3 separate regions of the Homo sapiens genome follow, and all the other regions are linked to region 3. The links come from fine-mapping of genetic effects on plasma protein levels. A gene starts in region 3. Each other region holds a variant in brackets. All regions are shown on one strand. Distances are from middle to middle.

Region 1 (2,765 bases), 1.2 Mb before region 3:
CTAAGGTACAGGGAAGTTATGTAACTTGCCCAAAGTCATATAGTAAGAAGGTGGCAGAGCATATATTTAGACATTAGCAGTTGGAGTCCAGAACTTATGTACTTAACCACTACTAACATGACTTCCAAATGGAATGAAATTAAACATTTGTGAGTCCAGATTCATATTTTAGATGTCCCTAAATATTATTCAAAACACGTCTGTTTACCTATATTTTCCTACTTAGCTTTATAGGAACAACCAAGCAATTTCTGCATGACTACAATTTTAAATGTCATAGAACTTTATGTATTACCCAAATTATTATGAGACATAGATAATAGAACAAATTAATAATGAAGAAAATTATTCCACTTCCAATATTAAGCAGATTATCCACTTACAATGATGTTACAATTACAAAGTAATATTTTTATGTAATGATTAGCACATATCTAATACCTATGGAATAATAACCTTGTCTTATGACAACTGAGATACTGAAGCTACATGTTAGAAAATATGTATTTAGTTATTAGCATGGTTCCTATCAAATTCTTGGTAACTGGGATATAGTAGCCGTGATCATTACAAATAAAGTCACTCTAAAAGATAAGCAAAGTAAGCATGGCATATGCTGTTCTTAAAGACAAAAACTGTAAAAGAAAACTAAAGTTGAAAAGCATTAGCCTTTCTTGAATCATACTTAGTTTTGGAATGTTCTCAAGGTTCTAAAACATCTACAGCAAAGAAGAGCAGAAGCAAAACAATATATAATTAGATTCTGTGTGATTGGATAGTAAAAAGATATAAATGTCTTTCAACTGTAAATTCCTAAAGGGGAAAGAATGCAGCTGAAGAAAGTTTCAGAAAAATATAGTTCTGGTATCAGACTATGTCCTATAATCTTTGTTTTAACCTCCATTTATAACAGAGAGAATTATGGAAACATTTTTAATATAATCAATATGATCAGGTTCAATGGACTCTGGAATAAGGAAAGGGTTTTCATAATACTAAGAAACTATTTTAGTACCCCAAATAACTTCCTAGATTTGCACAAATCAAAATAAGCCTATAAGTCTCTAGTGTACTTAGGCAATCGTGATTCCATAATGAAGGGATCTGAAGCATCAGGTGGCCAATGCTTAATGTACAATCCTTTTGTTTTTTGAGATGGAGTCTCGTTTGTCACACAGGCTGGAGTGCAGTGGGGCAATCTTGGCTTACTGCAAACTCTGCCTCCCCGGCTCAAGCAATTTTTGTGCTTCAGCCTCCTTAGTAGCTGGAATTACAGGTACACATCACCACCCCAGCTAATTTTTGTATTTTTAGTAGAGACAGGGTTTCACCATGTTGGCCAGTCTCGAACTCCTGACCTCAAGTGATCTGCCCACCTCGGCCTCCCAAATGCTAGGATTATAGGCATGAGCCACTGTGCCTAGCCTTAATGTACAATCCTTGAGTACTGCAATGATCAGAAAATGAAG[T/C]GTAGTCATCAGAACTGTCTTTTAAACATAAGAAAAGATCGGAAGATAGTCAAAATCTTCAAGTAATTTGAAAACATGGTAAAAATGTGAATGCTTTGGGTGGTGGGAGCAACCAACACCTTCTCAACCATGCCAATGATTCTTCATTGAATAAGAATTCTGTTGGTTTCCATGAAAAATATAAATACTAATATTCCCATTTTATTAATGAAGGACCTAAAAGCTCAAATGACCTACTTAAGGTCAGGCAATGAGTCAAAACTAGAAATAGATACTATGTCTGCTGGCACTACTCCTTAAATGAGGAAACAAAAATATCATTTTGAGTTCATTGAAACTTTACTGCTATAAAATTGAAAAAAAAAATCAAAGAGTATGATTTCAAAAAAAGACAATATATATTTTATAGTATGTATAGATTTGTCTTTTGCCATTTTAACTTCAAGGAATATGGCCTTAATTTAGGTTGGAAAGTTTTTCTGAAAGCAGCAGCAACAATTTTCCACCTGGGCAAGTAAATATGCCACGGAGTCACCATTCATCTCAGTCATTCTTTTCCACAGTAAGTGGACATGAAAGAACTAAATGAACATTAAACAAAGCTTGCCATATTCAGTAAATCTCCCCAGGACCTTGAAGACAGATTGAAATAAAGTACTGTCCAGATTCATTTTCTGCATTAACCAACATAAAATAATTAAATAGCAAAACTCCAGGAGGCCCATAGGCCATTATTAACAGATCTGTAGAAATGGAGAGGAAAATATTTGGTAGTGGAGACAGGACTTAACTGCAGGGTAAATTACTTGTGAGTACTGGAGGAGAATCTTTCAAACAGCCCTTCATTCAGCTCAAAAGTTTATTCTTCTTTGTAAAAATAGAATGGTGTGGTGGGTGAGTCCATCCTGCTCCAGAAGTACAAAAGGGAGCATTTTGTCATAGTTGGGCATCAGCAGTCATAACTGTAGCATTGCACAATCTGAGCAAGAACTAATGGAAATAGAAATAAGCAGAGCTGTAGATGTAAACCTGATAAAGATTCTGTGCTTGAATGCTGAACTTTAAGGAATTACTAGTATAAAGAGAAAAAATTCTTCCAATGACCATATCAGCCCTGATGAGAGTGACCAACTGTGACAAACACAAAATTAGGGTACATCTTGGCTCACAGCAATGCCAACACCACCATATTTGTGCTGTTCCACTACTCTGCTGCCCATGATTGGTGAAAATAGAGGTTAAAAACACTAGAAAAAAGTCGGATGAGTCCATGCCTTTCTCCTGAGAATCTGGAGT
Region 2 (2,765 bases), 1.2 Mb before region 3:
CCGCATATCTACAACTATCTGATCTTTGACAAACCTGAGAAAAACAAGAAATGGGGAAAGGATTCCCTATTTAATAAACGGTGCTGGGAAAACTGGCTAGCCATATGTAGAAAGCTGAAACTGGATCCCTTCCTTACACCTTATACAAAAACTAATTCAAGATGGATTAAAGACTTAAACATTAGACCTAAAACCATAAAAACCCTAGAAGAAAACCCAGGCATTACCATTCAGGACATAGGCACGGGCAAGGACTTCATGCTAAAACACCAAAAGCAATGGCAACAAAAGCCAAAATTGACAAATGGGATCTAATTAAACTAAAGAGCTTCTGCACAGCAAAAGAAACTACCACCAGTGTGAACAGGCAACCTACAAAATGGGAGAAAATTTTCACAACCTACTCATCTGACAAAGGGCTAATATCCAGAATCTACAATGAACTCAAACAAATTTACAAGAAAAAGACAATCAACACCGTCAAAAAGTGGGTGAAGAACATGAACAGACACTTCTCAAAAGAAGACATTTATGCAGCCAAAAGACACATGAAAAAATGCTCATCATCACTGGCGATCAGACAAATGCAAATCAAAACCGCAATGAGATACCATCTCACACCAGTTAGAATGGCAATCATTAAAAAGTCAGGAAACAACAGGTGCTGGAGAGGATGTGGAGAAACAGGAACACTTTTACACTGTTGGTAGGACTGTAAACTAGTTCAACCATTGTGGAAGTCAGTGTGGTGATTCCTCAGGGATCTAGAACTAGAAATACCATTTGACTGAGCCATCCCATTACTGGGTATATACCCAAAGGTCTATAAATCATGCTGCTATAAAGACACTTGCACACGTATGTTTATTGCGGCACTATTCACAATAGCAAAGACTTGGAACCAACTCAAATGCCCAACAATGATAGACTGGATTAAGAAAATGTGGCACATATACACCATGGAATACTATGCAGCCATAAAAAATGACGAGTTCATGTCCTTTGTAGGGACATGGATGAAACTGGAAATCCTCATTCTCAGTAAACTACCTGAAGAACAAAAAACCAAACACCACATATTCTCACTCATAGGTGGGAATTGAACAATGAGAACACATGGACACAAGAAGGGGAACATCACACTCTGGGGACTGTTGTGGGGTGGGCGGATGGGGGAGGGATAGCATTAGGAGATATACCTAATGCTAAATGACGAGTTAATGGGTGCAGCACACCAGCATAGCACATGTATAATATGTAACTAACCTCCACATTGTGCACATGTACCCTAAAACTTAAAGTATAATAATAATAAAATAAAATAAAATAAAGAACTTAAACAAATTTACAAGAATAAAGCAACCCCATCAAAAAAGGGGAAAAGGATATGAACAGACACTTCTCAAAAGATGACATT[T/C]ATGCAGCCATCAGACATATGAAAAAATGCTCATCATCACTGGTCATCAGAGAAATGCAAATCAAAACCACAGTGAGATACCATCTCACGCCAGTTAGAATGGCGATCATTAAAATGTCAGGAAACAACAGATGCCGGAGAGGATGTGGAGAAATAGGAACACTTTTACACCGTTGGGGGAGTGTAAACTAGTTCAACCATTGTGGAAGTCAGTGTGTTGATTCCTCAAGGATCTAGAACTAGAAATACCATTTGACCCAGCCATCCCATTACTGCATATATACCCAAAAGGATTATAAATCATGCTACTATAAAGACGCATGCACATATGTGTTTATTGCAGCACTATTCACAATAGCAAAGACTTGGAACCCACTAAAATGTCTATCAGTGATAGACTGGATTAAGAAAATATGGCACATATACACCATGGAATAATATGCAGCCATAAAAAAGGATGAGTTCATGTCCTTTGCAGGGACATGGATGAAGCTGGAAACCATCATTCCCAGCAAACTATCACAAGGACCGAAAACCAACGACCACGTTTTCACTCATAGGTGGGAATTGAACAATGAGAACACATGGACACAGGGCAGGGAACATCACATACCAGGGGCCTGTCGGAGGGTGGGGGACTGGGGGAGGGATAGCACCAGGAGAAATACCTAATGTAAATGACAAGTTGATGGGTGCAGCAAACCAACATGGCACATGTATACCTATGTAACAAACCTGCACGTTGTGCACATGTACCCTAGAACTTAAAGTATAATAAAAAAAGAAAGAAAGTGACTGGATGTAGCCATGTAGACTTAAGAACAAAAAAAAAAACAGGGAGAGAGAAGGCTGATTATAAAATTTACATGTAAAGACAAGGAAATTAGAATAGCCCAAACAATTTAAAAAAAAAAAAAAACTTTGAGGATTCAGACTAGTAGACAACACAATGTGTTATTGGATAAATAATAGACACATAGATTAAAAGAACAGAATAGAGAATTCAAAAATAGATCTACACAAATATGAACAAAATAGGCTTTTGATAAATGTGCAAAAGAATTCAGTGGAGACAGTATAGTCCTTTCAGCAAATGATCCTGGGACAACTGAACATCTGTATGGAAAAGCAGAATTAAACCTCAACCCATACCTCACAACTTGTTCAACAATTAACCCAAAGTGTATCATAGGCCCAAATGTAAAATATAAAACTTTATACACAAGAAAATTTTCTTGACCTTGGGTTAAAAAACAGTTCTTAGATTTGACATCAAAGCATGACTTTTTTTAAGGACAAATTGGGCTTTATCAAATTTTAAAACTTTTCTCTCTGCCAAAAAAAAAAA
Region 3 (2,741 bases):
AAGTGACCTTCTCTCCCAGATGGGTCATACAGGCTCTCTGCCTCCCTGGCCATCAGCTGAACCACTATCTATGGCTCCCTTCCCTGCCCTCCAGCCTCCAGGGTGCTATCCAACACATGTGATATCTACATGTAGTATCCATGTCCTCATCTCTCCCCCGAGAGCTCCCTGGAAAGAGCTGAGCCAAGGCCTTGCAAAAAAGGTGGAGAAAGGGCCAGGGCCTGGACATTTCATGTTCCCACCCCAGCCTGGCCACTAGGAGTGTTCTACGCAGGCTCAGATGGATGGGGCTGGCCTCACAGTGGGGTCTGGAGGACTAAGGTTTGGTTTCTCTATGCAAGGTCAGAAAAACTCCCACAGTACAGGGAAACTGGCCAGGGCTGCAGACTCAGACCACAGTGCTAAAGCCATGAACTCCACCTGCTCTCTGAAGGCTCGCCAACCTGAGTCCAGCAGAATGTTCTCGCTTGTGTCCAACCCCACTGGTTTAGGCTGAATCAGCCTCTAGGGCCCAGAGGCACTGCACCTGGAGTAGGGAGCTTCTCCAGTATCAGAGTCACCTTCAGAGGCCTGGAGCCTTTCATAAAGCAGGTAAGAGGACTCAATAGATGCATCTGCATGGAAAACATCCTCCCCTCTACCAGGCACCTGTATGTACAACCAATCACAGCAGCACACATACACCCAGAAATGGGCACGTGTGGGCCCACACCCCTTTAGCTATGAAACCCAGGCATGGGGCAGCTTGAGCCAGATACCTTGTGCAAACACAAACTCGTGCTGTCTTCTCTGAACTCCATTGTGAAAATCAAACACTTGTCAGCCCCTCAAGAGCCTTTAGATTTCCTACTTCCACACTTCCACAGAAAGGCCTCTGGAGTTGGGGGATGCTGGGGTTATGTAGGAAATTAAGCCTGGAGGGCCTTGCTGGGGAAGCCATTGTCCCTGTACCTGAGATGGATGCAGCCACAGCCCTGGAGCCAGCCTGAAGCTCCTGGTGTCTTCTGGGGGCTACATATAGGAGTGTAGTCCGAACCTCAGAGGGGCAAACCTGCTCTGCAGAGGGAATCAAGGTTCACATAACCAGAGAGGGGAGTCACTCAGGAAGGTGGCTCCAGAGCCAAGAGTCAGACTCTGGGTCCCGACTTGACCCAGCCACACCCCCTCTGAAGCTTGCTGAGAGTGGCTGCAGTCTCGCTGCTGGATGTGCACATGGTGGTCATTCCCTCTGCTCACAGGGGCAGGGGTCCCCCCTTACTGGACTGAGGTTGCCCCCTGCTCCAGGTCCTGGGTGGGAGCCCATGTGAACTGTCAGTGGGGCAGGTCTGTGAGAGCTCCCCTCACACTCAAGTCTCTCACAGTGGCCAGAGAAGAGGAAGGCTGGAGTCAGAATGAGGCACCAGGGCGGGCATAGCCTGCCCAAAGGCCCCTGGGATTACAGGCAGGATGGGGAGCCCTATCTAAGTGTCTCCCACGCCCCACCCCAGCCATTCCAGGCCAGGAAGTCCAAACTGTGCCCCTCAGAGGGAGGGGGCAGCCTCAGGCCCATTCAGACTGCCCAGGGAGGGCTGGAGAGCCCTCAGGAAGGCGGGTGGGTGGGCTGTCGGTTCTTGGAAAGGTTCATTAATGAAAACCCCCAAGCCTGACCACCTAGGGAAAAGGCTCACCGTTCCCATGTGTGGCTGATAAGGGCCAGGAGATTCCACAGTTCAGGTAGTTCCCCCGCCTCCCTGGCATTTTGTGGTCACCATTAATCATTTCCTCTGTGTATTTAAGAGCTCTTTTGCCAGTGAGCCCAGTACACAGAGAGAAAGGCTAAAGTTCTCTGGAGGATGTGGCTGCAGAGCCTGCTGCTCTTGGGCACTGTGGCCTGCAGCATCTCTGCACCCGCCCGCTCGCCCAGCCCCAGCACGCAGCCCTGGGAGCATGTGAATGCCATCCAGGAGGCCCGGCGTCTCCTGAACCTGAGTAGAGACACTGCTGCTGAGATGGTAAGTGAGAGAATGTGGGCCTGTGCCTAGGCCACCCAGCTGGCCCCTGACTGGCCACGCCTGTCAGCTTGATAACATGACATTTTCCTTTTCTACAGAATGAAACAGTAGAAGTCATCTCAGAAATGTTTGACCTCCAGGTAAGATGCTTCTCTCTGACATAGCTTTCCAGAAGCCCCTGCCCTGGGGTGGAGGTGGGGACTCCATTTTAGATGGCACCACACAGGGTTGTCCACTTTCTCTCCAGTCAGCTGGCTGCAGGAGGAGGGGGTAGCAACTGGGTGCTCAAGAGGCTGCTGGCCGTGCCCCTATGGCAGTCACATGAGCTCCTTTATCAGCTGAGCGGCCATGGGCAGACCTAGCATTCAATGGCCAGGAGTCACCAGGGGACAGGTGGTAAAGTGGGGGTCACTTCATGAGACAGGAGCTGTGGGTTTGGGGCGCTCACTGTGCCCCGAGACCAAGTCCTGTTGAGACAGTGCTGACTACAGAGAGGCACAGAGGGGTTTCAGGAACAACCCTTGCCCACCCAGCAGGTCCAGGTGAGGCCCCACCCCCCTCTCCCTGAATGATGGGGTGAGAGTCACCTCCTTCCCTAAGGCTGGGCTCCTCTCCAGGTGCCGCTGAGGGTGGCCTGGGCGGGGCAGTGAGAAGGGCAGGTTCGTGCCTGCCATGGACAGGGCAGGGTCTATGACTGGACCCAGCCTGTGCCCCTCCCAAGCCCTACTCCTGGGGGCTGGGGGCAGCAGC

Which allele goes with the higher level. Positions count from the first base shown, and alleles are read on the strand shown. Strength reflects both the effect of a copy and how common the allele is.
For the plasma level of the protein whose gene starts at base 1,798 in region 3, T is the low allele of the variant in region 1 and C is the other (moderate association).
In carriers of allele C in region 2, the plasma level of the protein whose gene starts at base 1,798 in region 3 tends to be higher than with T alone (weak association).

What was found. PIP is the chance, under the fine-mapping model, that this variant and not a neighbour inherited with it causes the effect. The UK Biobank Pharma Proteomics Project read protein levels with antibody pairs (Olink). The fine-mapping took linkage between variants from a reference panel, not from the people measured, so its PIPs are less certain.
Region 1: its variant is fine-mapped to the plasma level of the CSF2 protein (UK Biobank, PIP above 0.99).
Region 2: its variant is fine-mapped to the plasma level of the CSF2 protein (UK Biobank, PIP 0.95).

Annotation. Positions count from the first base shown.
Region 1 is chr5:130,853,339-130,856,103 of GRCh38, forward strand. The region is part of intron 1 of LOC107986449 (a long non-coding RNA gene); the gene reads right to left. Among named protein-coding and RNA genes, the nearest start is that of HINT1, 310 kb to the right of the region's middle. The variant T/C (reference allele first, on the strand shown) is at 1,470.
Region 2 is chr5:130,902,353-130,905,117 of GRCh38, forward strand. No RefSeq gene overlaps it. Among named protein-coding and RNA genes, the nearest start is that of HINT1, 260 kb to the right of the region's middle. The variant T/C (reference allele first, on the strand shown) is at 1,418.
Region 3 is chr5:132,071,992-132,074,732 of GRCh38, forward strand. It overlaps CSF2 (colony stimulating factor 2), which reads left to right and starts at 1,798. Exons shown (of 4, transcript NM_000758.4): 1 at 1,798-1,991; 2 at 2,090-2,131. The coding sequence starts at 1,833.